5 separate regions of the Homo sapiens genome follow, and regions 1, 2, 4 and 5 are each linked to region 3. The links come from fine-mapping of genetic effects on gene expression. A gene starts in region 3. Each other region holds a variant in brackets. All regions are shown on one strand. Distances are between the middles of the regions. Region 1 has its middle 130 kb from the start of MAP3K21. Region 2 has its middle 30 kb from the start of KCNK1. Region 3 holds the start of KCNK1 (potassium two pore domain channel subfamily K member 1). Region 4 overlaps KCNK1 (potassium two pore domain channel subfamily K member 1). Region 5 has its middle 52 kb from the start of MIR4427.

What was found. PIP is the estimated chance that this variant, and not a neighbour inherited with it, causes the effect. A credible set is the group of variants that fine-mapping cannot tell apart.
Region 1: its variant is the best candidate, but not a certain one, in a credible set for the expression of KCNK1 in spleen (GTEx, PIP 0.63).
Region 2: its variant is the best candidate, but not a certain one, in a credible set for the expression of KCNK1 in thyroid (GTEx, PIP 0.57).
Region 4: its variant is the best candidate, but not a certain one, in a credible set for the expression of KCNK1 in sigmoid colon (GTEx, PIP 0.63).
Region 5: its variant is the best candidate, but not a certain one, in a credible set for the expression of KCNK1 in atrial appendage (GTEx, PIP 0.51).

Annotation. Positions count from the first base shown.
Region 1 is chr1:233,456,940-233,463,063 of GRCh38, forward strand. No RefSeq gene overlaps it. Among named protein-coding and RNA genes, the nearest start is that of MAP3K21, 130 kb to the left of the region's middle. The variant T/C (reference allele first, on the strand shown) is at 2,720.
Region 2 is chr1:233,581,249-233,587,372 of GRCh38, forward strand. No RefSeq gene overlaps it. Among named protein-coding and RNA genes, the nearest start is that of KCNK1, 30 kb to the right of the region's middle. The variant G/T (reference allele first, on the strand shown) is at 3,500.
Region 3 is chr1:233,610,564-233,616,687 of GRCh38, forward strand. It overlaps KCNK1 (potassium two pore domain channel subfamily K member 1), which reads left to right and starts at 3,543. Exons shown (of 3, transcript NM_002245.4): 1 at 3,543-3,963. The coding sequence starts at 3,609. RefSeq lists enhancers at 2,669-3,321, 4,510-4,569 and silencers at 3,110-3,209, 3,570-3,639, 3,980-4,039.
Region 4 is chr1:233,655,711-233,661,834 of GRCh38, forward strand. All of the region lies in intron 1 of KCNK1 (potassium two pore domain channel subfamily K member 1), which reads left to right. Among named protein-coding and RNA genes, the nearest start is that of MIR4427, 35 kb to the left of the region's middle. The variant T/C (reference allele first, on the strand shown) is at 3,383.
Region 5 is chr1:233,672,707-233,678,830 of GRCh38, forward strand. No RefSeq gene overlaps it. Among named protein-coding and RNA genes, the nearest start is that of MIR4427, 52 kb to the left of the region's middle. RefSeq lists an enhancer at 4,757-5,379. The variant C/A (reference allele first, on the strand shown) is at 3,444.

The DNA.
Region 1 (6,124 bases), 150 kb before region 3:
ACCGTGTTTGGCCTGTCTTATTAGTTTTTATGAGTTTTAATGTTGTCTTTGGAGCAAGATAAAAAAATAAATTGGTTGAAAATGCATGTTTCCTACAACGAGTTGAAGCAGTGATAATTCATGTGGCCCTTAGGTGGTTTTGGGACAACCCAGTGAATTTGCCTGCTTTCAATCTAGTTTTGCCATTTGAAAATTCACTTTAGCTCTCAACTTGATCTTTTAAACAATGAGATATCAAATTAAGGGAGGCATTTTATAAGCTAATTCCTGCCCTCCTGCCCTCCTGTTGGAAGCCACATACCTCTTCTGTGGAACGTTTCCTGACACTCTCAGGGACAAATGGGCTCTCTCGTGTAGCCACCACTCTGGCCTGCAACTGAGGACACTTTATTGCATTTATTTGTTTGTCAGTCTCCACCTTCCTAACTGTCTATCTTTAATTTAGAAATTCTTTCCTTGTTCCTCACACATAGTTGATGTTCAATAAACTTTTGTTGAATGAATGAAATGAACTTCTGTGAAGTTATATCCACCCTCTGTATATAATAATAATATTGCATTATTGTGGCATGTCCACTTTGTGCCAGAGCCTTTTGAGATGTATCTTCCCAGCAGTGCTAATAGGACGACATTATTATTATCATCTTCGTTTTATAGATAAGGAAAATGAGGCTCAGAGAAAGCAACTCAAAGTCATGTAATGAGCAAGTGGCAGAGCTGGGATCAGAACCCAGATCTCTCTGGCTTCAAAATTCTTCCAACTAATTTTAAAATCAATTAATTAGCTAATTAATTAAGTTTCCAGATTTATTGAGGCATAATAGATAAATAAAATTGCTTATATCTATGGTGTACAACATGAGGTTTGGATACATGCATACATTGTGAAATGATCACCACAAGCAAGCTAATTAACATATTCACCCTCACATAGTTGCTATTTTTTTATGTGTGTGTGTAGGGGTGAGGACACTTAAGATCTACTCTTTTAGCAAATTTTGAGTATACAATACAGTATTGTTAACTAACTACAGTCACCATGCTGTACATTAGATGTCCAAAATGTATTTAACCTGCATAACTAAAACTCTGAACCCTTTGACCAATATCTCTCTAATCACACCTCTCCCCTGCACCCCATGCTAGCCCCTGGCAATCACCATTCTCTTCTCTGCTTCTATGAGTTCTACTTTTTTAGATTCTCTATATAAGTGAGATTATGCAGTATCTGTCTTTCTGTGCCTGGCTTATTTCACTTAACATTCTGTCCTTCAAGTTCATCCATGTTGTCATAAATGACAGGATTTCTTCTTCTAAAGGGCTGAATAATATTACACTGTATGTATATACCATATTTTCTTTATACATTTTATCCATTGATGGACACTTAGATTGATTCCAAATCTTCTCCATTGTGGACAATGCTTCAATGAGTTGTTCTAATTATTATGCCTTTTTAATCCATTGAGGTAAAAGAGAGTGGATCAGAAATATGTTCCCTGCAAACAACTGTTTTTGCCCTATTTGTGTTTTCTGAGCAGTGGATTAGTGAAAAGAAGACTGGGTTGGATAAAAACTTGGGTCTTTGCACTGATTGTTATACTAACCAACTGCTAGGCGGCCTTTTGTCAGTAACTTTACCTCTCTAAGCTCAGTTTTGTTTTGTTTTGTTTTCTGTAAAGTTTGGATAATGATATTACGTATCTCATGGTTTTTGTAAAGATAGATAACATTAGACAATGTACCACAAAATGATGCTTTTTAAAGTAGAAGTAAAATTAACGAAATATTTTCCCTTGGTATGTAGCAGCGTTTATTTTTTAAATGCTGGTCTGGCATAGCTGTGTGAAAGGAATGGTTTAGATCTGTGTCTGGCCCAATACTATAAAGAGAAATGAATGTGCTGGGGCAGTGCTTGATAGTTGCTCAAAAAATAAAAAATTATATATTTTTTTATTTGGACTGCAGTAAAGGTATATATAGGAGCTTTAATTTCTCAAGTACATTAGCAAAATCTAGTTTACCTTTTAGTATGAGAGATGATTCTTTAAGAGATCAAGGAATCCAAGACCTTTGTAAAATGGAATAGACTCAAGCCCTGTTTATTTACTTATTTTTTTGAGACAGAGTCTTGCTCTGTCACCAGGCTGGAGTGCAGTGGCACAATCTCGGCTCACCGCAACCTCCACCTCCCAAGTTCAAGTGATTCTCCTGTCTCAGCCCTCCGAGTAGCTAGGACTACAGGCGTGCGCCACCACACCCAGCTAATTTTTGTATTTTTAGTAGAGACGGGGTTTCACCATGTTGGCCAGGATGGTCTTGATCTCTTGACCTTGTGATCCACCAGCCTTGGCCTCCCAAAGTGCTGGGATTACAGGTGTGAGCCACTGAGCCTGGCCAAGCCCGGAGTTTTGAGTCTCAATGTCAGGGAGATAGTGGACAGGGAAGGCCTGAACTGTGTCCAGTGACAGGAAGAGAAAATAAGGCCCCAGGTATAAAACAATCTTAAGTAAAGAAAACATCAACATGGTATGGTAACCATGCATTTTATGGTCTGTGTGCTGGTGCTTTGACATCTGGGGCCTTGCTGACCTTGGGGAGACTGCCGTCCCAGGGTTTGCTGATCTCTAGAGAGCATCAGTCATTTTCCCATGAGCATGCTTTTCAAATGCAAATCAACCAAACCAGAGCTCATACCCCTAGCCATATTTTTTTCTCA[T/C]GGGTTCTCATACTCTGGGACACTCTCCACCTACCCTAGTCACCCCAGACAACTAGGGTCAGCTGCTACAGCCCATAGCCCTCTGAAATTATTCAAACCAGCCAATCATAAGCCCATGTGCCCTGCCTTACCTGTTCCTTCCTGCAGAAACCACAGTAAAGTCTTTTACCCACAGTCCCCTGCCCCCTCTGCCTCTGACCAGCCCTGGTACTTCCCCAGGTGGCCTCTCCTCCTGGGAACCTTGAGTAACAACTTCTCTTTTCAACAATAGTCATCTTGTGATCTGTTGGCCTTACTCTACTTTGAATTTTTAACTAATACACTATATGTTAAAACACATACTGATGGCCCAGGCTGAAGACAAGGGCTTCAGCGGTCATGGAAAGGGTTGGCTTGTGTACAGAATAGCACTTGGGAGGCGTTAATGATCTTTTGGAACCTGCCCCTGGGCTCAGTGTTATGTTTCTGTGACTACACGTAGACACGTGAACTAAGAGAGCATCACTTGGTGCCCTGTTATGCTATTTCATAGCCCCCTGCAGGAATGTCAGGAATGTGGAGCAGCAAGGCTGTGCTCAGAGCAGACAAGTGTGGGTCTTGTGGCTAGGGGCCAGTATTCGTCAGCAACATTATGTGGTGCTGATGAGAGGCCACAAATGGCCCCAAAGACACCACTTCTCCTCCCACTTTGGTCAACTTTGCTTGGACCAAACCTCCAGGGTGCTTGGGCAATTTGAGGGAAGAGGGGAGAAAGACTCAAGAGAAGAGTGTTAGATTTCCTTCTAGTAAAGCATGTTTGCTTAAGCAGTTAACAAGCAAGAAGAAGAGTCATGATCATAATAATATAGATCTCATTATTGTTACTCAGTCGCTAGAGTTGGAATATGGTTTTTGTTGTGGAGATTAGTAGGAGGGAGAAGCCTCAGGGAAACCTGAGAAGTGGAGAGGGGCATGGAAGGCTAAAAGATGGGGCAGGCAGGGGGCCTTGTTCAGCATCACACCTCTCTACCCAGAGCTTCTCCTTCTGTACCTTCTCTCTGCTCAGATCACAGACTTTGCAGCCCAGAAGCTGCTTCTTGGCAAGTGCAGCCTGGGGCTCTGCCCCTGAGACTTGCTGCCACGTTTGTTATGCTTGGAGGTCCTGGGGATCCCAGACTGATGAACCTGGTCGTGTCTCACAGTGTACAGAGACACTTTAGAGTGTTACAATTCCAGAAAGGCTGGCCTTTGCCCCACTGGCCCAGCACTGCAATATCACTGTGCTGAATACTAAGTGTGAAGAGTACTGAGATGCTTCTTTCTACTCAAACATTATAAACATGCAGTTTCTTTCTCTAAGTAATTGCAAGCCTTCTGCTGTAATTCGTAGTGGAGGTCCCCACAGATCATTCGTCTTGCTCACAGCTCTCTTCCAATTACAAGAGAAGCCTGTTCCTTGTTTTCTTTTTGATTTTTATTTATTTTTGATTGACTAGGGGTGGATAATAGACAGTGTTTTAAGAATAATGAATTCAGAGAGAATGTGAAAACTACAGGGCCTGGAACAGGTCTCTCATCTTTTTTTTTTTTTTTTTTTTTTTTTTTTTTTGAGATGAAGCTCTGTCACCCAGGCTCGAGTGCAGTGGTGCAAAAATCTCGGCTCACTGCAACCTCTGCATCCTGGGTTCAAGTGGTTCTCCTGCCTTAGCCTCCCAAGTAGCTGGGATTATAGGCGCCTGCCACCATGCCTGGCTAATTTTTGTATTTTTAGTAGAGACGAGGTTTCACTCGTCTCTACTAAATTAGATGTCATCTCTATTAAATTAGATGTTGGCCAAGCCAATTTTGAACTCCTGACCTCAAGTGATCCACCCGCCCTGGCCTCCCAAAGTGTTGGGATTACAGGTGTGAGCCACCGTGCCCGGCCGTCTCTCATCTTTTTATTGGTATGTTTAGACTCAGTATTCAGAGGTAGGGTCATCTCATCAAAAACAAGGTGATATAAATAGAGCAGGAATCATGACCCCAAACCTCCAGTGGCTCATTCAAGTAATTAAGGAAGTGATTAATTAGATTCTGAGATGAAAGATAAAACATGAGAAAAATGCTTTGTTACTCTCTGTATTAGTCAGGATTCTCTAGAGAGACAGAACAAATAGGAGATGGATATAGACATAGATTAGATATGGATGTAGATATAGATAGGTAGATGGGAGAGGATTTATTAGGGGAATTGGCTCAAATGATTATTGAGGCTGAGAAGTCCCAGGACAGGTTGTCTGCAAGCTGGAGACCTGGGAATTCTGGTAGTACAGCTCAGTACAAGTCCAAAGGCATCAGAGCCAGGAGTGATGCCATCAGAGCCAGAGGATGATGGTGTAACTCTCATTCCAAGGCCAAAGGCCTGAGAACCCAGGGGTCATTGGTGTAACTCGTGGAGTCCAAAGATCAGAGAGCCTGAAGTTGTCCAAGGACAGGAGAGGGACAATATATCCCAACTCTAGTAGAGAGATTAACCTATTTGCCCTTTCTGTTTTTGTTTTCTGCAGGTCCCCAGTAGACTAGATGGTGCCTGCCCACATTGAGGGTGGATCTTCCCCACTTAGTCCTCTCAGACTCACATGCCGATCTCCTTTGGAAACACCTTCACAGACACACTCAGAAAAAAAACGCTTTACCAGATTTCTAGGTATTCCTTATTCCAGTCAAATTAACATCAAAACTTAATCATCACGCTCCCTTATTTTTGTTTTCCTAATTGTTTCATGCATGTAAATAGCTCTAAGAGAGTCCATCAAAACCATGAAATCTCTTCCCTCCCAGAACTGGGTGGCACAGAAAGTGGTGGAGGCTGGTGTCACGATGCAGATGAAATACGGACCCATGTAAATACAGACCTGTAGTCTGCCACTGCTACAGAGGCTCCACTTCGTTGTGGGATGTAAGATGCAGGTGCAGACTGAAATAGGGAAACTCTGAGCCAGAGGAGGAGACAGTGATTTGGGCCTCCATATGCTCTGCGGGATATAGATCCTGAGCTCCACTGACCCCCATTCCAAACTTAGGAGGCTTCCTGCTTTGGCTGCCATTCAGGGACAAATTCATGAAGACTTCCTCATAGCTCTTCCTCCCAAGGCAAATCCATGGACACCCTCCCCTCTGGCTCCCCTCCCAATTGGTGGAGGCTGGGGGAATGGATCTAAAGTAGGAGGGACCTCAAATCTGATAGTTATTCAGGTCTTACTGGAGCTTCCAGAGAGCTGGGCCTTGGGATCTTCATTTATAAAATGAGGGGTTTGCACCAGGCAGTCCGTGCCAGCTCAGATTCTGCAAACATGATTTCCTTTACCTATTTATTTCTAAAGTAATGCGTGGGCCTGCACGATGGCTCACGTCTGTAATCCCAGCACTTTGGGAGACCAAGTA
Region 2 (6,124 bases), 29 kb before region 3:
TTCAGCCTTTCCAGATGGCATTAGGTGCTAAGTGTCAGAAAAGACTGCTAAAAGTGTGGTGTAGAGAAAAGGCTGGGTGTGTGATTGACAACACATCTTTTTCTAAAACCACAGAAATATCAAGAGATCACACAAGAGGCCCCATCAAGAGATGAAGGGTGTGCCCCCTCAGATCCTCTTAATCAACACAGAGGGCCTCTAGCAAACTTACAGGGCTGCCCCTCAGCTATCTCAGCAGAAGCCAAAGGTAAAGAAGGGCTCACATAAAAAAAATATTAGGAGTGTGGGTTTTGTCTAACGGAGCGAATCCCTGTGAAATAAATTCAGGATCCACAATGTTCTTGAGAAAATTGCTTCAGCAGAAACACTACCATCTTAGACAAAAAGGAAAAAAGAAAATATAAAATGAAAGGGAATGTGGGATCCCCCCAAATTCTGCTAGCAGGAAGCAGGCTGATAAATAACTCAACTGCAAACACCTGCTACATTTTATGAATAATTAAGGATAATTCAGAGGGTGGAGCCGTGATTGCGCCACTGCATTCCAGCCTGGGTGACAGAATGAGACCCCATCTCTATAAAAATAAAAATAAAATTTGTATTACAGCACAAGGGATGGAGAAGGAGTGAGACGGTGTGCACAGAGCCTAAGGGGTAGAGCCAAGTGCTTAGAGGGCAGGGTTAAGAGCCTAGAGGGTGGAGTCAATCACCAAGAAGGCAGAGCCAAGAAACTGGGGCGTGGGGCCAAACACTACAAATGATTGTTCTCAGGCGATATTAGTCCATTAGTGTGGCTATAAAAGAATACCTGAGACTGGGTAATTTATAAAGAAAAGAGGCTTTTTTGGCTCACAGTTCCGCAAGCTTTACAGGAAATGTGGTGCTGGCATCTGCTTTTAGTGAGGGCCTCAGGATGCTTACAATCATGGAGGAGAGCAAAGGGGGAGCAGGGGGGTATCATACGGCAAAAGAGGGAGCAAGAGCCATGCCAGGCTTTTTTAAACAACCAGCTTTCATGTGAACGAATAGAGTGAGAACTCACTCATCACCAAGGGGGTGCTGAAGGGAACCACCCCCAGGATACAACACCTCCCACCAGGTCCCACCTCCAACATGGGGGATTGCATTTCGACATGAGATTTGGAGTGGACACACATCCCAACCACATCACAGGCCTTGAAAAAAAAAATCGACATTTGCTTTGCTCTATTTCAGAATTTTATAAGCTAGTGGTTGCTTTTTACCTCCCATTTTTTCACTATTTGTGCTATAATTGTCTATAATTATCCTGCACAAGTCCCATCATATTATTTTCAGTGTGTTGGAGCCAGACGACTTGTCTCTTTAGTTCACAGGTCAGTGGACGGATTATACCCAGGGGACTCATTCTCAGCTGGGTTAGATGATTTGAATGAATTTGTGGACTTTGAGATAATGCTATAATGGGATGAGACCCTTGGGAATCTTGGGAGAGTGTGAATGTATTTTGCATGTGGGAGGAACAGAAATCAAAGTGAAGAGAAGTGAAGATGGCTTCAGAAGGCACTTCAAAGAAAGTGGGAGTAATCCTTTTTGTTAAACTCAGGTGATAAATATATCAGTTTTCATTCTACTATTTTTCTTTATATCTTACACACATAAATGCTTTCTTACTTAATATTTAATGAAGACAACTTATTTTTAAAAAATCAAAAAAATTTAAAACTTCCAGTTCAGTCTCACTACATAGTGGAGACTGCCAGTTGTTTGTCAACATTCAGTCTTTCTTTTCTCCACAGTGGTAGACTGATAGCTGGGTTAGTGTGCCTGTTACTATAAGTTCGCCAGTGGCAGGGGAGTGAAAATGAAGATGTTGCTTTCAGGCTTGGGCCTTCTCACTCCTTCACCATCTCTTGTGCTGGAATACAGAATTTTGTTCATTATTACTATTATTTTATAGACATGGGGTCTTGTTCTGCTGCCCAGGCTGGAATGCAGAAGTGCAATCATAGCTCGCTGTAACTATGAACTCCTGGGCTCAAGTGATCCTCCCTCCTCCTCCCACCAAGTGACTAGGACTACAGGCACACACCACCACCCCTGCCTAATTAAAAAAAAAATTTTTTAGAGATGAGGTCTCACTATGTTGCCCAGGCTGGTCTAGATCTCCTAGGCTTAAGTGATTCTCCTGCCTCAGTCTCCTGAGTTGCTGGGATTACAGGTGTGAGCCACTGCACCTGGTTGGAATACAGAATTTAATGGAAATTCAATGGTATGGATGAGAACAATGCTAGTGCCTGGTTTTTAAATTCTTCTCCAGTTGGCAGCATCTGCATCAGCAGCAGCTCCTGCTCATTAAAGATGCAGAATACCTGGCACCTCCATAGACCAACTGAATTAGAATCTGCAGTTTAATAAGACCTCCAGGTGATTCCTATGCACATTAACATTTGAGAAGTGCTGCTCTAGGAGATGGTGTAGAAACAAGATAAGAGGACCTCAAGTCCCTGAATGACTTCATGGAGCAGAACTGGACTGTTATGTAAGAGAAATGAAATTCTTGATGTCTAAGGCACTGTATCAATGGGAGACTTTGCAATAGTGATAGGAACAGGAGGCAGAGAAATTCTAGGCAGGAAAGGGCAGGCTCCCTGGCAAAGCCCCACCCCCAAGCCTGGAACCATGGCCCAAAGTGAGAACATGTATTTCTGTTTTTCCCACTCAAATGTTGCCTTTTCCAAAACCACCATGGCCTGCCCTGCTCCCCGTCCTATACCCATAAAACTCCTGACTCGACTGCCAAAGGGCAGAGAAGGGGAGAAGAGGAGAAGCAGCTGGACATTGGAGACTGTGGTTTGACATCAGAGAGAAGCAGCTTGACTTCAGAGAGATGGCTTGATGACGTTGCTTCAGAGAGGAGTCTGGCCGGGACAGCCGGACTCTGGGGGAAGATCACCTTCCCACTCCATCTCCCTTCCAGCTCCTCTTCCTGCTGAGAGCCACGTTCATTGGCAATAAAATACTTTGTATTCATCACCCTTCAATTTGTTTGTGTGACCTGGATTCTCCTGGATGCTAAACAAGAGCTCAGGTGCCACAGGTGCAGACACTGAAGGCTGTCACACTGACCCTCTGCCCTTGTGAAAAGGCAGAGGGCTCACCGAGCTGTTTAACACTTAACCCATCTGTGGATGGCAAAGCTAAAAGAGCACTGTAACACACACCTTCTGGGGCTTCAGGGATTGCAGGTACCCCTCTAGGCGCTGCCACAGAGCTGCACAAAGTTTTGCTCCTGCCAGCACCCAAAAGCACTCATTGTGGCTCCTGCACCCACTCACCTGTGGCGGGCTGAGTAAGCGAGGCACCCCTGTCACAAGGCCTGCAAAGGGGTCAAGGAAATTTTCCTGTGTCAATAGCAGATTAGCTTCACTGAGCACAAGTGGTTTGCCTTCCATCCTCAATAGTCCCCAGCTACTCTGGAGGCTGAGGCACAAGAATCACTTGAACTCTGAAGGTGAAG[G/T]TTGCAGTGAGCCAAGATCATGCCACTGCACTTCAGCCTGGGCAACAGAGTGAAGCTGTCTCAAAATAAATAAATTAATTAATTAATAAAAAATAGCCCCCATTAGCGAGTCTAATTGAGAGACTGAACAAAATAAGTGAAAGTTGAGGCTTCCAATGTAGATAATGTTGGTTCTGAAAGTAAATTCCTCTTAGTTTTTGGAATCTTCAGGGACTATAACTCAATAGCTTGCTACCTGTCTTCTTGCCATCAGAGGAAGCCAAGCAAACAGTCCCCATGTTCACATTAGGTTCCCAATCAGTATTTCCCATCAAGGGAGAAGCTTAGGCTGGGGAATCCTGCATACATAATTCATACCCATTATCTCAGGCTTGCTTTCTTCAACTTAAGTAGATAGGTGTATATAAAGAGACCACAGCATGAAGAAGAAAGATTAAAATAAAGATTAAAATGGGCCCTGGAGGAAACAGATAGTGCAGAGCACATAATGTAACTGAATAAAAGCTTTTGCTCTGATACTTAGCAAGAATCAAAAGGATATTTCAGCCATTAAACAATAGCAAGTCTATGAAAATAGAACAGAGAACATAAAGTTTATGTTTTTAGACATTAAGTTTATGCTTTTAAGTTTAAAAATGAGTAAAATAGAAAGCAAAGTAAAAGACATCTCACAAAACACAGAGCCACAAGGAAAGTGATGAAAAAATTTGAGTAAAAAATAGGCCTAGGAAATTCTGGATTTGAATAATAATGGGATTTCCTATTTTTGTTTTTGTTGCATTTGCTTTTGGGGTCTTAGTCAAAACTTATTTGACTAGGCCAATGTCCAGAAGAGTTTTTCCGAGGTTTTCTTCTAGGATTTCTATAGTTTCAGGTCAAGCATTTATGTTTCTAATTCATCTTAATTTTTATATATGGTAAGAGGGCTGGAGTTTCATTCTTCTGCATACGGCTAGCTAATTTTCCCAGCACCATTTATTGAATAGGGTGTTCTTTCCCCATTGTTTATTTTTGTTGACTTTGTCAAAGATAAGTTGGTTGTAGGCGTGTGGTTTTATTTTTGGATTCTCTATTCTATTTCATTGATCTATGTGTCTTTTACACAGCAAAATAAATAATCAACTGAGTAAACACACAGCCTACAGAATGGGAGAAAATATTTGCAATCTATGTCTCTGACAAAGAAGTAATAACCAGAATCTGTAAGAAACTTGGACAAAGCAACAAGATAAAAACAAACAATCCCATTAAAAACTGGACAAATGATAGGAACAGACATTTCTCAAAAAAAGGCATACAAGTGGCCCATAAACATAAAAACAATGCTCAACATCACTAATCATCAGAGAGATGCAAATTAAAATCACAATGAGATGCCATATCACACCAATCAGAAAGGCAATTACTAAAAAGTCAAAAAACAACAGATGTTGATGTGAATGCAGAGAAAAGGAAACACACATTGTTGGTGGGAACACAAATTAGCATAACCTCTATGGGAAACAATATGGAGATTTCTCAACTAAAAATAGGACTATCATTTGACCCAGAAATCCCCACTTTGGTCATCTACCCAGAGGAAATTAAATCATTATATAAAAAAGAAACCTGAACTTGTATGTTTATCACAGCACTATTCACAAAAGCAAAGTCATGGAATTAACCTATGGGTCCATCAACAGTTGATAGGATAAGTCAACTGGATAAAGAAAATGTGGCGTGTTTACAGCATGGAATACTATGCAGCCATAAAAAAGAATAAAATCATGTCCTTTGCAACATTAAGGGTGGAGCCAGAGGCCATTATCCTAAGTAAAATAACTCAGAAACAGGAAATCAAATACCACATGTTCTCACTTATAAATGGGAACTAGACAACGGGGTATACATAGACATAATGATGAAAATTATAGACCCTGAAGACTTCAAAAGGGACAGAGCAGGGGGAGTGAGGGTTGAAAATTTACCTATTTGGTATCATGTTCACAGTTTCAGTGATGAGTATGCTAGAAGCCCAAACCACATTGTTAAAAAATATATCCATGTAATAAACCTGCACATGTACCCCTGAATCTAAAATCATAATCATAATTATAATGGATTTCCAAAAACAGTAGATAGAATGGAGGCAGAAATTATCAAATAAACAGGTGACTTTCATTAGAGCTGAAAAAAGACCTGTCTTCAAATAGAAAGGACTTATTAAGTGCCAAGCAAGATGGATATTTGCAAAGCTATAGACACTGAGAATAAAGAGAAAAATCTTAAAATTTCTCCAAGAGGAAAACGAGTCACTCAAAACAGAGGAGGAGTGAGCCCTGACATCATATTTCTGATCAATTTCACTGTGTGTTGGAGAAATGGAACAATGCCTTCAAAGCTGTAATAGAAAATGATTTTATGCAGCATCGTATGTTTCGGCCACACTAGCAACTCGAAGACTGAACTAAAGATATTTTCACACATTTGAGTTAACCTCTCATTCTTTCTCTTTTCTTTGGGAGCTACCTGAAGATGTACTCTAGAGCACTAGAAAATCACCCCGGAAAGTGGAAGGTATGGGGTACCAGGAACAGGGGTTTCTGCCAGGAAAGCAGCAAAGTCTCAGAGTGAACACTGTGCTGC
Region 3 (6,124 bases):
CAGCCAGAGAAGTGAACTATGGAGAAAATGGCAAATTTGTCTGAAGAAAACTTCTAATAATAATTTTTAAAATTCAATGTAGTCAAGATGCATGTTGTTCCAGTTATCTATTATTGTATAACAAGCTAGCCAAAAACTCGATGGCTTAAGACAGCCATCTGATGATATCTCAGGATTCAGGCAGAACTCAGCTGGGAGTTCTGTTCCTGGGTAGATAGACAGAGGTAAGACACCCAGTGGTATTCAGCAGGTGGATGCCCTGGTTTGAGAGTTGAAGATGGCTACACTCATCTATCTGGTGTCTTGGCGAGAATGATAAGGAAGCTGGGCTCACTGGGCTGTCCCTTGAAACACCTACATGTGGCCTCTCCAGCATGACAGCCTCAAGTTAATCAGACATCTTATGTGATGGCTCAGGGCTCCAAGAGGGGATTGTTCCAGTGAACAAAGTTGGAGGCTGCTGGTCTTTTATCATCTAACCTTGGAAATTACCTAGTATCATCTCTTATGTACTCTGTCAGTTGAAGTAGTCACAAGTTTCAAGGATAGGGGACAGAAACCCTACCCTTTGGTGAGGGACTGTCAAAGAATTTGCAACCATATTTCAAAGCTGCCATATACATGTTGGGGGAACCAGCCCCACACCAACCGGCGGGTACCCCGAGTCCAGCGGAGACACAGGAGTTAGAAAGAGGCAGAATAAGCATTTAAAAGGTGGGTCCAGGGGACCGTTGTGTAGGAGGCTTGCTCATGGCCCAGAGCTCTTGGGCTCCAACTAATTTATTGTTTTACAAGCTCTTTGTTCTTAGGGCAGATGGGAGGGGGAGGAAGGGATGAGGAAAAGGATTAATCAGTGAAGGAGAACTTGTGAGTCATTCAATAAGATGTACAGCAGTGGTGGTCTCTGTGAATTTCCTTGAGCAAAGGCGTGTGTCTAAACTACTTAAGATTGCGTGTGTCTAAACTACTTAAGATCTTTAACTTATTGGGACTGAAAGGGGTGGGAGCGGGTTTCAGGAGGAGCCAAGATGTTTGATTATACTCCACTGCTTCCAGGGCGTGTTATCTCCCTGAGCAGCCTGTGGAATGCCCCCGAGCAGTTATGCTCTCAGGGCATAAAGACATGAAGGCAATAAGGAGACTTTTCTCCTCAGAGGTCACCCATGGCTCCCCATGGGTGTCTCACACAGGGGAGAACAACTCAACTGGCACTCCAGAAACTCTTTTTCCCACAATACATGTATGTATATTTGAGTGTGATGATATAACCACACCTGCACCTGCAGTTCATCACAAGTACCCCACACAATCTGGCATTCAAAGGGTTGTATGTCTTGGGAAGAGGAACTCACATCCTGTTGGGGAATCACAGGTTTCATGAGTGAGCCAGGTCCTGAAGGATATAAACTGTGTTACAGATGGAGATGGAGGAGGAACTGTCCAAGCAGAAGGAATCAGGTGAGCAGAGACATAGGGAGAAAAATGATCATGACAGGCAGGAGGAGAATTCTGAGGGTCTGCTACGGCCGGGGGTAGCCTCATGAATGAAGAGGTCTCTGAACAGGGCAAATAGGCAAAGATCAAGGATAGGATAGGGCAAGCAAGGGTTACAGAGCAGGACAGGGAAGGACATTGTAGGATGGAGACTTGAGGGAGAAGGAGGAATTCAAGTTCTAAAAGAGTAGGGCACTTGCTGATGGGGAAGGGTTCCCAGAGGCGGAAGGACTGAGAGTGGTAAGTGCTTCCTTTCACCTTGAAAATAAGGAGGTACATTTTTTCCTTAGGGGTAAGAGCAAAGGGAAGAAATGGATTACCGATGAGTAAATTTTGAAGTACAGAGAAGTAAAGTGGAGGGCTGGCTTCAATCTTTTGAGTAACGTAGGAGGTAAGGCTATTGACTAAAAGTGAAAAATCACTGATATATATGTTAGACATTTGCACAAGTTTCTATGAAAATACAAAATATGACTTGTTTAGAGAACTTCAGTAAAGTAGGCAAATGTTCAGCTAGGTGTTGGAATGATTAATTGTACAATTCAGTTTTGTGTATTTTAAATGTTTTTCCTGATTACAAAAATAATATATATCCACTGTAGAAAATTTGAAAAATATTAAAAGGTACAAGAAAGGAAAGTCATCTATATACTCTACTATTACCCAAAGACAACTGCAAGGAGATAGTTTTATTCCTATGCAGTTGATTAATAATGCAGATGTCATTTTATTTTGTAACAAAATACAAATATTTTACATATTTGAGATTCTACACAGTTTTGCTTCAATAGTCTTTAGACACAACTTTAATGTGTTTAATGTCTATATGGTGTCCATGCTGTAGAGATGCCATAACTTATTTAACCATTCTCTATTTTGGAATATTTAGATTGTTCTGAGTCTTCATTATTTCATCTATACCGTGTGTGTGTGTGTGTGTGTGTGTGTGTCCCACATGTGTATGCACTATATTATACAACTACATGTATGTATATATAGATACCGTCTATGACCAGTCTTTGTAAGTAAGTGCCTCTCTGATTGTTTTTTCTTAGGACATATCACTGAATCAGAACAAATAAACCCTTTCAAGGTTCTTGAGACGTGTCGCTAAATTGCCTTTCCAGAAAGGGTGTACCAATTTTTATTTTCATCCACAAGCAGGCGGCTCGCTGACCCTCGCCCACATTTTTGTCACTTTAAAAAGAAGTGACAGTTGGGAAAGCTCAGTTTCTTCTGGCAGTTGACACATTTGGGATGTTTTTTCACCAAAAAACCTAAGGTCATGTTTTAGAAAATTCGAACTCAGAAATAGGACTTCTCTGAGACTCTCCTTTTCCCTCAAGTCCTTTTTGTGAGGGGGATGGGTGGGAGAGAGGAGACTGATTCAAGGAGCCTTCCAACTCTGATGTTCTGGTATTTTCACCGTCATTACTGGCACCAGATTGCTCAATCCTTCGACCAATAAGACAAAGAAGGAAAGTACTTCAGCGCTTGCTGTTTTGTAATACTGGCTTTGATTGGGAGAAAATAAGTGGGAAACAAGAGTAGCTTGGACAGGGGGCTTGGACGGCCAGCGCATTGACCAGAAGCGGCCCACACTACACGCGCGCGAACACACACACACACACACGCACACGCCGCGCGCGGTCAGCTAGAGTTTGGCTACTGGACCCAGGAAGGGAGGGAGCGGGAGGAGCTGGTGGCTGTCGGGTCGGGGTCTGGGCGCCACCGAGCGCCCGCCCCACCTCTGGAGTGCGCAGAAGGCGGTGCGTCCCGGGCCCCGGCAGCCCAGCCCAGGCGCTCTGGCCAAGTTTGCGCGCGGTCTCCGCTGACTCTCGGGTTACCTGAGCCGGCAACCACGTCAGCGCCACATCATCTGGGCTTTTTATATTGCAAGGAAACAGGAAAAGAAGGAAGAAAAACATCGCCCGAGAGAGCCAATCGCAGGAAGACGGCGCTGCCCGGAGGAGCGGGGCGGGCGGGCGCGCGGGGGAGCGGGCGGCGGGCGGGAGCCAGGCCCGGGCGGGGGCGGGGGCGGCGGGGCCAGAAGAGGCGGCGGGCCGCGCTCCGGCCGGTCTGCGGCGTTGGCCTTGGCGGCGGCGGTGGAGAAGATGCTGCAGTCCCTGGCCGGCAGCTCGTGCGTGCGCCTGGTGGAGCGGCACCGCTCGGCCTGGTGCTTCGGCTTCCTGGTGCTGGGCTACTTGCTCTACCTGGTCTTCGGCGCAGTGGTCTTCTCCTCGGTGGAGCTGCCCTATGAGGACCTGCTGCGCCAGGAGCTGCGCAAGCTGAAGCGACGCTTCTTGGAGGAGCACGAGTGCCTGTCTGAGCAGCAGCTGGAGCAGTTCCTGGGCCGGGTGCTGGAGGCCAGCAACTACGGCGTGTCGGTGCTCAGCAACGCCTCGGGCAACTGGAACTGGGACTTCACCTCCGCGCTCTTCTTCGCCAGCACCGTGCTCTCCACCACAGGTAGGGTATCCTGCGCGCCCCCTGGCCGCCCCGGCCACCTCGCCCACAACCCACACACCCCGGCCCCGGCGCCCCGGGCCCCTCTAACCCTCCCACCCCACCCCCCACCTTTCGCCATCCCGGCTCCTCCAGCCCGCCTCCCCTCACTGTCCTCCCGACCCTCCGACCTTCCCCTTACTGGCGTCCCCGGCCTCTGCCTGGGTGACTCGGGAGGGCAAGCCCTGCGGAGCCGGAAGCCAGAGAGGTGACTCCAGACGTGACTTGGTTGTTGCCGTCCGTAACTCTGGGGAAGTGGTCCCTAACTTCGGCCTGGGTGGCTGCAGGTGCTTCCTCCCCTTGAGTTCTTTTTTCGCAACCCACTAAGCCAAACTGTCGGGTTTGAATGTGTAGCAGCACCTGGCCGCCGTGCGGCAAGGCAGCGGGATGATGGAAACTCACCACCTTCCTCCCGCACCCATCCCAGAGGCCGAGGCTGCAGTCTGGTAATAATACCTTCTAAAGGGTCACCTTCCGGAGTGTGCCGTCCCTTTGGACCATGCACAGATATTCCAGCTCTTTTGTACCTTGGAGGCAGTTTTGGGGGTAGCCGAGTGACATCACTCTGCTCTTCCCAGGTGACCTCTGGGCGGACAGGCCGATCCGGTTTCTTTTCAGAGTAGGAGGAAGGGTGAGGGAGAGTAAAGGAACCATAGGATTGCCTAAGATCTGACTTAATTGGGGCACCCTGATTCAGCAGTTCCTTCAACTTGAGGTGTGCGAGGCTCCCCATAAACTTCGAAGCGCCACGTCCCCGTACGACTCACCCGCGGGGCGCCCGGCCATGGAGGAGCCTCCTCAGGTGAAAGATGAGGCCGGGCGCATGCCCCAGGGCTCGGTCACTGTGCCAGATCAGATGAATGAAGGCCGAATTTCCCCAGCCGGACCTAGTAAGGCACATACCCAGAGTGGAGATATCAATTGGTATTTGGACAGTGGGAGGAATCTGAAAGAGCGTTCAGCACAGTCCCTTCTTTTGATCTATGAGATCCAATCTTTGAAATAATCCATCTCGTCATGCACAAGGTCACACACTTCCTAGTTACCAGTGTCGTCCTGGAACCTGGGCCTTGTGATTTCTCTGCCAGGACCACTTTGTAACCCCCCACCCTCAACCTTTACAGGTGAATCACATCCCTTTGTGTGACTCCCAACTCTTCCTTCCTCCCCACCCCCCTCCACCACCCAAATTATTGTGTATAATTCCCTTTGGGCTATATCTTGTTGACTATCTTGGTAATTACTTGGTAATGAGTAATAATACACTATTCATGTAGATCACATGAAACAATTATTCAGAGGTCTGGGGTGAATTACTAAACTGATGTAAATCTACCCTGAAATAAACAGAAGTGGAATTCTAGCTTGTATTGTGAGATCTAAAAAACTGTTAAATGTAGCGCTAGACAAGACAGACCTGTTATCTCACTTTCCAAAGAATGCCTGTTCCCTTGCCAATACAATTTAATTTTTCTTTCCATAACTCTGCCTCCATTGTCTTTACCTAGTCCTCTGTTCCTCAGATCATTTAGGAGTCACCATGCCTTTCCTTTGGAGTATATTTGTGCTATATTGAGAGTCATTCATTCTTCCCAGAAGTAAGTGTTTCCATGGGGCTACAGAAAGTTTACAACTGGGTCACAATGTTGGGTAAACATTTCGAAGGATGCTTATAGCGTGTGGTGTTTTCTTACTAATGATATTGTGAGGATAGAACAAGAATAAGAACAGTTTTGAGGAAAAAGGTTTGCTTTTATCTGGGTGGGATTTTTCGTGACTCATGTATAGTCTTAACATCATATTGTCTAATTAAATGTTAAAAATTAGTTTATAATCTTGAATAGATGAAATATTCTTCCCAGAGGAGAATTAGAAAAAGGGATAGTTTCTGTTTAAGAAAGGGGTGGGGTGGGAATAGACGTCTTATTATTGGTATTCAGATTGCTTTGTAGTTCCTAAGAAAGTCTGTATTCATGCAAAACAAGTGTTCATTTAAGAAATCAGTGCAAGGGGCACTTAAGGATAAACTAAATGAAAAAGGTGCCTCTTGGTTTGTAAAGTTAGCACATCAATGAATTCTTGTTATATGAATACAACTATTCTAAATGAAAAGTACTCTTCTGTT
Region 4 (6,124 bases), 45 kb after region 3:
AGATTAGAGTGAGAAGTCTATGAGGAAGCAGCCCTCACCAGACACTGAATCTGCTGGTGCCTTGATCAGAGACTTCCCAGCCACTAAAACTGTGAGAAATACATTTCTGTTGTTTATAAGCCTGTGGTATTCTTTTGTAGCAGCTTGAACAGACTAAGATACCCTTGGATGAGGAGCAACTGAGGTAAAGTGGGAAAAAAAAAAAACGGCTCCAATGCCAAGGGCATACTGGACAGCTCTTTAACTTATGCTTGGTGGTTGCTTCTCATCATTTTCAGTTAATCGTAAAGCATTCTACTTTTGTGGATTTCAAGTCCCTAGGAAAGGATGCTGAAGGAAACGACAGTTTTGTGAGACCATCAGTAATTGTAATGTTGACACCTCTGCATTCAAATGGGTTACAGGATTAAACAAGTGTCATCCAAAGGACCATCAGGATGGCTAGATAACAGAAAAGAGAGTTTCACTGGCAATACTGGTTTACAAACCTGGAAGAGAGAGTCTCCGGTGTGAACTGAAAATGCTCTCTCTGAAGAACAAAGAGAAGGTTAGAGGTTTTATAAAAAGGAGAAATGTTGCATATTGCTCTTTGAGAAGTTTCATTGGCACCAGTAAGGTTTTGAGGAGCTGGCAGGCTTCAACTGATAAGTGAGGGTGGTGCGTAAACCCAGTCTGAGAGTTGCAGCAGGTCGTCTCAGTAGTCGTTAGACAAAACTGGTTTCAGGTTACTGCAGGCAGTGTCAGCTGCCAGGCCTGCAGAAAATTATGTTTTTTGGAGCAATGTTCTTCACCCTGAGTGCTTTTTCCCCTTGGCTTATTGATTCTTTGTTGGGTATGACAAGAATGACTCATTTCATGTGATCAGCTTTCACACAAGGGTGACAAAGCTTCAATTATTTATTTCTTTATTATTTATTTATTTAATTTGGGACAGAGTCTCTCGTCGTCTAGGCTGGAGTGCAGTGGTGCATGATCATGGCTCACTGCAGCCTCAACCTCCCAGCCTCAATTGATCCTCCCACCTCAGCCTCCCGAATAGCTGGGACTACTGGCACATGCCACCATGCCCAGCTAATTTATTTAGTTTTTGTATAGACAGAGCTCACTATGTTGACTAGGGTGATCTTGAGCTCCTGGCCTCAAGCAATCCTCTCACCTCAGTCTCCCAAAGTGCTGGGATTACAGGTGTGAGTCACCATGCCCAGCCCAAAGCTTCGTTTTAAGTCTCTTTTATTTACTTTTTTTGGTCCTAGTCATAACACATTGTAAATATACTCTGTCAGAGAATTAGATAGCTTGTTGTTTTTTAAGTCTTTTCTAATTAATCTGTTCATGTAATTTAGTAAGAAAATATTAAAGGGAAATCTTGCCCGAGAGATGGCCAGTACTGAGTAAGAAGCCCATTTGGTTTGTGTCTGGGAGGATGGGCAGTGAGGATGAGTGAGGATGAGTTTAATTTAGCTTGGTGAGAGGGGGACAAATCCACCTTTTCACGAGAGCTGCTTTCTCATCGCTTTTTGTCCCCCTTCATCCACAACCCCCGCAGCCAAGGCAGTGTCAGTAAATTTTGGGATGGAAAAGCCTTAGGTAGGATTCTTATGTTTTCGAAATGTGACTGATTGGAATTGGGGGAAAGCTGTATTAAAATTGGATATGTGGTAAAAGCTGGATATGTGGTTATTACCCATATCCAGTAGTGGGTCATGTTCCTGTGCTACCATGATCTGCCCGCAGTAACCTAGCAAGACATCAAATCACAGTGTGCAGTAGATGGTACCGTTGAACAAGCCAAGCCATATTGTCTGCAGGGATCTGAGATGATAAAGAGATTATTACAGAATTTGTTTTCATAAGGAACTGTGTAATTATGATGATTAGCCAAAGAAATAAGAAAGAAAGAAAGAGAGAAAAAGAAAGAAAAGAAAAGAAAGAAAAAAGAAAAAGGAAAGACGAAAGAAAAGAAAGAAAGAGAAAGAAAAGAAAGAAAGAGAAATAAAGAAAGAAAGAGAGAGAGAGAGAAAGACAGCCTGGTCTGTTACCTATGCTGTCCTACTATAGCATTTAATATCTTACTGCAAATTTTACTAAGTTATAACTTAAAAGTGTTAATTTTTTTTTTTATCACTTTGACAAACTTAGCCTCCTACAGCAGAAGGTGACTGATCAAAAGCTGGACTGTCAACCAGGTACTCACCAGCTTAGAGAGAATGGAGAAAAGGAGTATAAAGAATTTGAATAATTGTATGTAACATACGTGTTTCTTTTGAAATTTCAGTTTTAGGAAGCAAGGCCTGATGAGATGATCTTCATTTGTGAGAGTATGCAGAGGGTGGTGTGAAAAGACATGGCAGGGATTCGTATTTTTAAAATGGATGGAAAAACAGTTCTAAAAATATGAAAAAATAAGGACAAATAATCATAATTTAAATTCTCAAGCTAAGAAAGGTTCAACACATTTCAAAGTTAAATTGTAAACAGTGTTAGGGAAAAGAAACCATACAGAAATGGGACAACAGGGATCCATTAGAGTTGGATATCATTCATTTACTAGTTTGAGGGGCAAAATAAATAATTATATGTGTTTTTAAATCATAGAGAATGAACCCTGAAAATGTTTAATGCTTAGAAAAGAAAGCATGTATAATAGAAATTTTAATTTGGCCAAATTGCTTACTTTAAAATTAGAAAATTCGATTTTTTTGATTGCATAATTTTGGACACATAATTAATAAGCAGGTAGATTAAAAGGAAAAACCTACATATTAAGCAAGAATCATCTAACAAAAACAGTTCCTTATATAAGAGACTGTATGCTAACTCCTAGATGCCAAGAGAGAAAATGAGACTACATGAGACTACAGTCAAGCGTCACCTAACGACAGGGATACGTTCTGAGAAATGCATCCTTAGGTGTTTTTGTCATTGTGTGAACAACGTAGAGTGTACAAAGCTGAATGCTATAGCATATTGCTCTAGGTTACAAACTTGTATATCATGTTACCGTACTGAAGACTGTAGGCAAGTGTAACACATGGTATTTGGAGATCTAAATATATCCAAACCTAGAAATGATACAGTAAAAATACAGTATAAAAGATTTTTTAAAATGGGACACCTGTATGAGACACTTAGCATGAATGGGGCTTGCAGGAATTGAAGTTGCTCTGGGTGAGTGAGTAAGTGGTGAGTGAATGTGATGGCCTCGGAGATTACTGTTCACTACTGTAGACTTTCTAGACACTGGACACTTAGGCTAAGTTCAGTTATTTAAAATTGTTTTCTTTCTTCAATTTATTTTCTTTCTTTAATTTATTATATTAATCTTAGCTTTTGTCACTTGTTTACTTTATAAACTTTTTAATGTTTTTAATTTTGATTCTTT[T/C]GTGATAACGTTTAACTTAAAACACGAACATGTTATACTGCTGAAAAAGTATTTCCTTTATATTCTTATTTGGTAAGCTTTATTTTTAAATTTTTCAGTTTTTTTTTACTTTTTAGATTTTTTTTGTTAAAAACTAAGACACGAACACACACACTAGCCTAGGCCTACACAGGGTCAGGATCTTCCACCCGCACATCTGTCCCACTGGAAGGTCTTCAGGGGCAGTAACACGCATGGAGCTGTCATTTCCTATGATAACAATGCTTTCTTCTGAATTCCTCCTGAAGGACTTTCCTGAAGCTGGTTTACATTTGACATTTTTTTTATTTTAAATATTTTTTATTAAAAAAAATGTCAAATGTAAACCAGCTTCAGGCAAGTCCTGTAGAAGGAATACAATCTAAAATAATGATAAAAATTAGTAAAAAATTGTAACTATATAAACCAGTAACAGTCATTTATTATCATTGTCAATATATATACATACACTATAATCGTATGTGCTATACTTTTATGCAAATAGCAGCGCAGGAGGTTTGTTTACACCAGCATCACCACAGACACTTGGGTAATGCATCGCCTTATGATGTTACCATGGCTACGACATTGCTAGGGGATGGGAGTTTTTCAGGTCTGGTATAGTCTGATGGGACCACTGTCATATATGTGGCCCATTATTGACTGAAACGTCGTTATGTGGTACATTGACTACACTGCCGGCAAGCTCCTATTTAAGTAAACAAACACAATAAACACAAACAAACATGAGAAGTCCAGAAGAAAGGCCAAGGATGATAAGAGAACCTTCTTAGGAAAAGGAAGCTACATCAGGGCAAGGGGCTGGTTCTCACCTGGAAGACACAGTACTGCACACTGCAGCCAGATGAGTGCCATTTTCATGTTTCAGAATGGAGCCATCTCCAGGATATACTGTTAAAAGAAAACTCCTAACAGTAACCTCTGGAGAGAACTAGAATTGAAGAGGACATGAGTAGTCAAGGGGACATTTGCTGCATCAGTGTTGTTTGAATATTTTACAATGAAAATATACTTATATATTGAGTAATTTATAATCATAATGTACAATTTTGATTTCTACTTTTACCTGATATTTACGTTAATGTCTTTAGAATATAACTCATTCTTTGGGCTGTTGGACATCCTATCTTACTTAGCTGGTATCTCTGCAATTAGATATTTATTTATAAACAGGGATTCCTTGAGAGTTATCGTTTACATTAAATAGTTAAATAGGAAGATAAGTATTTTATTGGAATTTAGTTTATGCTTATATCACTGATATTAATTATTGCCACAGAAACTCTACTTTTGAAGATCACCACTAATTTGTTATGTTTCATGTTTGTTTGTCACAATTTAGGGACAGTCTTCATTGATGACCTTACTATTTACCACAGAAGTTCATCTATGTGGCTCCAAACTCTATTTCAAGAATATGAAAGGCATGTAGGTTATGCCTACGTTCTCGGACCCTTGATAGATGTTTTGCTGACCCACCTTCTGATATCTGTAGAGTTACCCTAGGCTCCACCTTCCACCAACCAGTTCTGTGTGTGAGTTGCACGGTCCTTTGTTCATTACTAAACGTTGTTTTTGCGCTCTCCTGTCCTCTCATTTCAGTCTCACTATCTTAGAATCAGCTTCACGGAACCACAGGAAAGACATCATTGTTCTTCTTTTGCAGGTAGCGAGTAACACCACCCTCTCACTGAGAGCACCTAAGAAATAATGTTAGGACTTGAGTTGACTTTTGATGCATCCGTGTCCTTTGTATCATATAATATATCTGGATTGGTAGAGTGCAAAGATTATGGGCTCAACTTGTTATTTGTATGACTTTGAGCAAATTGTCTAAACTCTCAAATACTCAGTCTTTTTATTTATAGAGTAGAAATAACAACTCTAGGATTTGGAAATTGTTATGAAGGTTCACAATTATTCTGCATACACTACAGCTTATACACATATGGCAAGCAGCTAGGTGTGGCTGTTTTTATTGAGTGTTTTGAGCCCGTTTCCCTCCTTTCCAGAACCTACCTCCTCAGACTGATGGATGCATGATGAGTTCCCCTTGCCTAAGTTATTATTTCTAATCGTTCTTTCACTGCGCTGCCATTTTTAGTGGAAACTTCATTGCAAAAAGTGCAAGGTTCTCATCTGTGGAACTTGAGTTGTTTGCTGGCTCCCCTAGCTTTTAAGTGTGGTGTATTAATTTAGTCCCTCTCTCAGATGTCCACTATAAGGTAAAGAATTGATGCCATGTCCCAACTAGGAATGCCATTGCCTCTCTGTCTTTGCTTGTTAGCAAGAAACGATTCATGAATGAGTAGAAACAACAATAAGTGTTTAGAAAAGTATTAAATGAATGAGGCAGTAAAAAGTGATCCCAAGAAAATCCTAGACCACTTGCACCTGCCATGACTTGTTACCTCTGTGACCTCTTACCATCTGTGCCTCCTTGGTCGCGTGTATTGACTGTAGCCCACTTTCATTCTGTCAGCATTTCTCTTCAGTCTATTTAGAGCTCCCTTGAGCCTTCTCTCTCTGGCAAACTTCTTTTTATAACATAAGCAAAATAACGGAAGATGTACATTCCTTGTTGTGTGCATGGCATGGATGGGAAGGATGAACGGAGTTTATCCATGAAAAGTATGGCTGTCAAAAAAGGGAATTATGAAGACATGTTGTATGCAAGATATCTTGAAGTTAACTTTTTAAAAA
Region 5 (6,124 bases), 62 kb after region 3:
GACGTACACAGGATACTATTATATTAAGGATTTTAGAAAAGAAAATGAGAAAGCCCCTGTGTGATAATGAATGTCCACTGACCCCCGCAATGGAGCCTTACCTCCCATGGGTGGCTGCCCAGGAGTTGGTGGTTGAGGGGCTGGTAAAAATCAGTGCAAAATCAGCGCCCTCTGATGAGCCAGCCAAGCACTTTGATCGCGGGCCAGTCTCCTGACAGTGGGTCACTCGCTCAGTAACCTTCTACCTTCTGTACCATGTGCTGCCATGAGTAAATTATTACCAACTGCAGGGCAAAGGGAAAGCATCCCCTTACCCTTCGGAAGATTTGCTGAAAAATCAACTCACAAAAAGGCAGATTAATGAGAAAAGGCATACACATTTATTAACTACCATGCACACAGAAAGAATTACAGAGTGATTGTCCAATATCTCAATAGGGGTTCACATGCTTAAATATCTTACTGATTAGAGGACAGGGAGATGGAAAAATATAGGTGATTTTAGAGGGATAGTATATGATTTTTAGAGGAATCCAAGTGTGCTGCCCCGTAAGCATATTTCCTCCCTGCTGACCATGTCCCTGCAATAGAAGACTGCTGTCATGAGGCCAGATCATTGGTTAAGGGTAGAATAGAGAATCCTTGGAGAATAGAGGCATGCATCCTGCCATAACTGGATCTGCAACATTTCCGATGGTCACAAGCCTTGGTGTGGAGCAGAGTCCTGAGATGCTCATCAATATAAATCACAGAAGCTGGATTACACTTGGAGAGTGTTATTCTATTTTATGCAATGCAGGAAAAAATAATGGCTAGTTTGCTACAGCTGCTTGGCTCTAACATGAGAGGGAAGTTCAAAGTCCAGAAAATGAGGAAGTACGTGAAGAAAAACTTCTGAATCAGATGTGATTAATAAGTAATAGAGTGTAGTACTTAATTTTAGGAACTCGTTTGAATCCGCAGAGAACACATTAAACCTTAATGCCCTTCAGATTGTTGTTAATGTGAAGGGCAAAGTAGAAAAGTAGGAGCAAGTTTTGCCTCGGCCCCCACCCTAGCAGGCAGGAAAGTAAGGGAGGATGTCTTCCCCAGGGTTTCTTTTTGTCTTTGGCCGATGATGCTGCCCTTTGGTCCCCAGGGAGAAGCGAGCTTGGTCACCCAGGAGGAGCTCTGGGTCAGCCTCTCAGAGAACAGAAATTCGGCTTGCTGCAGGCATGACAAGGAGGTGGAAGATGAACAGTGTAGCTAAGCCAGAACTGACCTTGGGAACCCTTTAGTTGGAGGCGAGAGAGTGGGAAGTTGGAGGTAAAAGTGACTACTAGAGAATTCTGGGTGATGAGTACAAGCTGAACTCACTTGCTTAGCTTGAGCCTTCAAGATTGAGTTCCTAAGATGCCTGCGGAATGCCCTCAGGGTAGAACAGCAGCAGAAAGCCTTATCATTCCAGGACATGGTCCTGTGCGTGAACTTAAATGTGACACGTGTCTGGTAGGGATGTTGATTTCAAAGTAGCAGATACACTCCACGTGAGGAGAGAACACAGAGTATCTCAGAGTGGGAGTTCCTAAGCTCTCAGAAATCCAAGGGAAGAGAGACCAAGGGGTGGGAGTAGTCTCTAAATGAATCATGTAAAAGATTCCCAGGACAGATAAAGTTTAGCCCAGATCACTCCATTTATGACACTGGTTTCTTTCTATAGTAGTCATGCCACCAAGATATTTTGAAAGTATTTGTTCAAAAGTTGAAGAAGACAAGTGGGAGAAAAAAGAAACATTTTCTGAAGACAGAAATTTGGTCTGACTTCAAAAAAAATCGAGTAATGTTTAGATTACTGACATGGGGTCACTTTTTTTTTTACCTGAGAAAAAAATCACACTCATACTTTCTCCAAACCAGCTTTATGGGCCTTTTGGAAAATGAATGAGGAGATATTTACAAATCTGGAGACCTCAAGATAACGGAAATAGGCAATGCAAAACCTTCTTAACTCTTTAAAGTACACTGACCTCTTACTAAAAACAGCTATTTGTTTCAAAGAAGAAAAGTTTTAAATTGGCAGAAGCACATGTTGGAGAATTAGAACAGTATTATCTGTCTCTTATTCAGAATTCAGTGAGAGCAGAGCCTCCTGATTGTCTGGCATAATACATTTATTTTGGTATTTGTTGTTGTTAAAGCCTCCATGCTGGGAAGAGCTGTGATAAATACTGATATCCTCAATTTAGGAAGGCAGTCCCTTTAGGATGTAGTTTCAGCAATGTATATATGGCAAATTTAGAAACAAAAGTTTCTTAGCAACTTATAGTTGAAATTGAAATGAGACAGTATACCATTTACTTTATTTGACTATGCCAAGTAACTTTTTAAATCTGTCTCTGTAGCATGTTTGAGATTTTCCTATTGTGACTTTTTTTTTTATTTTGCAAGGGTCTTACATTGTGGAAATTTGGTGCATCAAAGCCTTTTGTGTGAGGCAAGATGTAAAATTGCTGAAGTCAATTTTCCTAACATCTCTCTTATCTAATATGTACTGTCAGGCAAACTCAGCTTTTTGGAGTGCAGTAAAGGACCCAGAAGTAAATAAAAATGCTTTTTAAAGTATTTTTCATGCCCTGGTAGGAAAGCACATTTAAAAAGAAGTAAGCCCTCTCTTTGCTTCACTCATGGCATACACATACTTACTTTGCACACAGTTCTAACAAAATTATTACTCTGTTTTTCCAACCCACAGAAAATAAAGGAGAGAGTTGTATTAAAAGGCAAATTTAAGACAAATTAATTCAACAGAGTTTATTTGAAATTAAAGGATTCATGAACTGGACAGCATTCAAAGCCTGAAGAGGTTCAGAGAATTTCACTGTAGCAGCAAGAGGTGTGGGGTTTTATAGGCGGAACATGCAAGCAAAGCAAAGCAATTGCTTGATTGGCTACAGCTACGTATTTGTCTTAATTGAATATGATCTACTGGAAAATCCCTGGGCTTGTTGGTGGTTTCTGACTGGTAAAGGTTTTTTGTTTGTTTGTTTAACTGTTTATGTTGAATTGGGCTTGGCTGGATTTGTTCACCTAGGAAACAAAGGGCTCTGAGGCCATCTCAGCCTAATGGCCTCTCAATTATTTTAACAATTGCTACCCAAATTTTGTGTCAACATAAATGACGTTACAATTTGTGGTGACACAATTAAAGAATTTAAAAGTCTCCATATGCAACTTGGCAATAATTACTGTGCAATCACTTAGGCGGCCTTAAAATAGTAAGCAGTCTCTCAGTTTCTGTAAAAGCATCCACAGCACTTGCACCATTCCCTTAGCATCCTGTGGCACTCAGCATCTGCGTAGAACAGTCTGACCACTCTATTTTATACTGAGAAGGAGAAATGGTCACACCCTCTAGAGACATGACCACCTGTCTTACTGAAAGCAATTTTTGACTAAGTCTGGAG[C/A]CTCATGGCAGCTAACATGCTGCTCTCAAAGGGGGCGCCACAGTGTACTCAGAGCCACAAACCACACACAGGTGGCCTAGCAAATTTTTACCAATGTGGAAAACCCACATTTTAAGCCAATGACAGAACATACTCGGGTCAGTATGATTACAAAGTATGAATACTTAACTTGCGGAAAAAAAATGGATTTTCATTATTTTCATAATGATTTCACTACTGTGATAAGATTTTCATTATTTTCATAATGAAATGTTATTAACACAATTTTCATGACAACATTAAATGATGTTTACAGACATAAAGTAAGTGAATAGTATTTCCATGCAAAATGGTTAAAATTTGCTTTAAGATGTTTCCTTTTTAAGTGGTAATTCTCTTTGCTTAGAAAATTCCCTCAGGCTAAACATCTTATCTTCCACCATGAAGTAACTTGCTGTCTACATATGAAGATGACACTACTGCTAAAATCTTGCATAAATAAATGTCTATATTATTTATTTTAGGTGAAGAATTTAGCTTAGTTTTGAGAGTCTTTTTCATCCTCTTGGTTTTATTATTTATATAAATGACTGTAAGCCAAAAAGTATCTGACACAGGTTCAATCAATGCAGAAGTTTATTTTGTCAAGGTTAAGGACGTGCCTGTGACACAGCCTCAGGAGGTCCTGATGACATGTGTCCAAGGTGGTTGGGCTGCAGCTTGCTTTTATATGTTTTAGGGAGACATAAGACATCAACCAATACATGTAAGATATACATTCGTTTGGTCTGGAAAGGGAGGACAACTCAAGATGGGCGGGCTCCCAGGTCATAGGTGAATTCAAAGATTTTTCTGATTGGTAATGAGTTGAAAGAGTTTATCTAAAGACCCAGAGTCAATAGGAGGGTGTGTTTGGTTTAAAATAAGGGGTGAAGGAGACCAAGGTTCTTATTTTGCAGATAAAGTCTCCAGGTAGCAGGCTTCCGAGAGAATAGCTTGTAAATGGTTTCCTATTAGACTTAAAAAGGTGCCAGACTTAGTTAATTCTCTCCTAGATCAGAAAAAATACCCAGAAAGAGAAGAGGATTCTCTATAAAATGTAGATTTTCCCCACAAGAGACAGCTTTGCAGGGCCATTTCAAAATATATCAAAGAAATATATTTTGGGGTAAAGTATTTCTATTGCTTTCAGGGCCTGCTGTCATATCAGCATCTTATTGCTACAAAGAGTCTGTTTTGTTAGACTTAAGGTCTCTGTTTGAATGTTCATGCTGGTCAGTTGTGTCTGAATTCCTTCCATGGAGGCATGTCCACCCACTCATTTCCATCACAGCCTGAACTAGTGTTTCAGGTTAACTTTGGAATGCCCTTGGCTGAGAGGAGGGATCCATTTAGTGGTTAGGGGGCTTAGAATTGTATCTTTGGTTTACATTCCATGTGTAATTGCAAACATACATATTTTCACCCACATAACTCAGCATTTAATTTTCGCTTCTAAGCAATGACGAGACACCCCGAGCCCATCGGCCACCAGATATTCAGACCTTCCAGTGAGCTCATGGGTGTTCAAAGACATCAGCCTAGTTGACCCCAAACTCCTGCCTTACTTTGTTCTTGCCCTGCGTAAACATCTTTGGTTTAAATTGCTGCATTCATTTGGGATAAGTGCCCTTTTTGATGTTCTCCCTTGCATAACGAAAGCTTTCCTCTAAGCGGTTGTTACCAACTTAGTACATGGTGTGATGCATTGCAAATTAGGACAGTGTGACCTTAAAAACTGGAACCAAGCCTATTCTCACCCATTCAGCAGTGACCAAGCGAGATTTTAAAGGTCACTGTAATTTATGGCACATGCTAGAGCTGGCAGAACTCTATTAAAAAGTAAAATAATAGATTGCCTTTTTGTCACAGTCTATCATTTTTCCCTCAGATTTTGGGGAACTGAAAAGGAGATCAGGCTGCCCCAGGGACCCCTGTCTTGGGAGAGTGAAGCAGAGCCCAGGGCATGGGCATAGCCAGACATTGACAGCACACATTTCTGTTGGTGACTCCCTCCAAAAGGGGCACTGGCTGGAGAAGGACGACAAGCACAGTGGGTCAATGTGGAAACCTAGCTGTGCCACCTGGAACACTTCTCCGGTCACTATGGAGGGTCTTAAAGAGACTAATCACTGCACTCACATTTGTTTTCTTTCCAGCTGATCATCTGTGTTACTTACGTCTGTAGATTTCAAGGTTCCATGGCTATATCTAAGGTAAAAAGAGGAGAAGTATTTTATGAGTGTTACGCAGAATATCTGGCCGAGTGATTATGAAATAGCTTTTCACCCAAGTTGTAAAATGAGAGCATCCTGTGTATTTATTTCCCTTCATACATAATATGTAAAAAGTCCAGTTGCAAGATGCCACTCAGACCCAGTGAAATCCACTGAGAATGGCAAGACCCCATCTTTACGAACAATATTAAAAATAGCTGGCTGTGGTGGTGCACACTCAGGAGGCTGAGGTGGGAGGACCACTTGAACCCAGAAGGTCAAGTCTACAGTGAGCCGTAATGGTGCCCCTGCACTCTAGCCTGAGCAACAGGGCAAGACTTTGTCTCAAACAACAATAAAATAACCCCATAAATTAAAAAAAATTGACCCAGCATAGTTACATGTACAGGTAGTCCCAACTAATTGGGAGGCTGAGACAGGAAGATC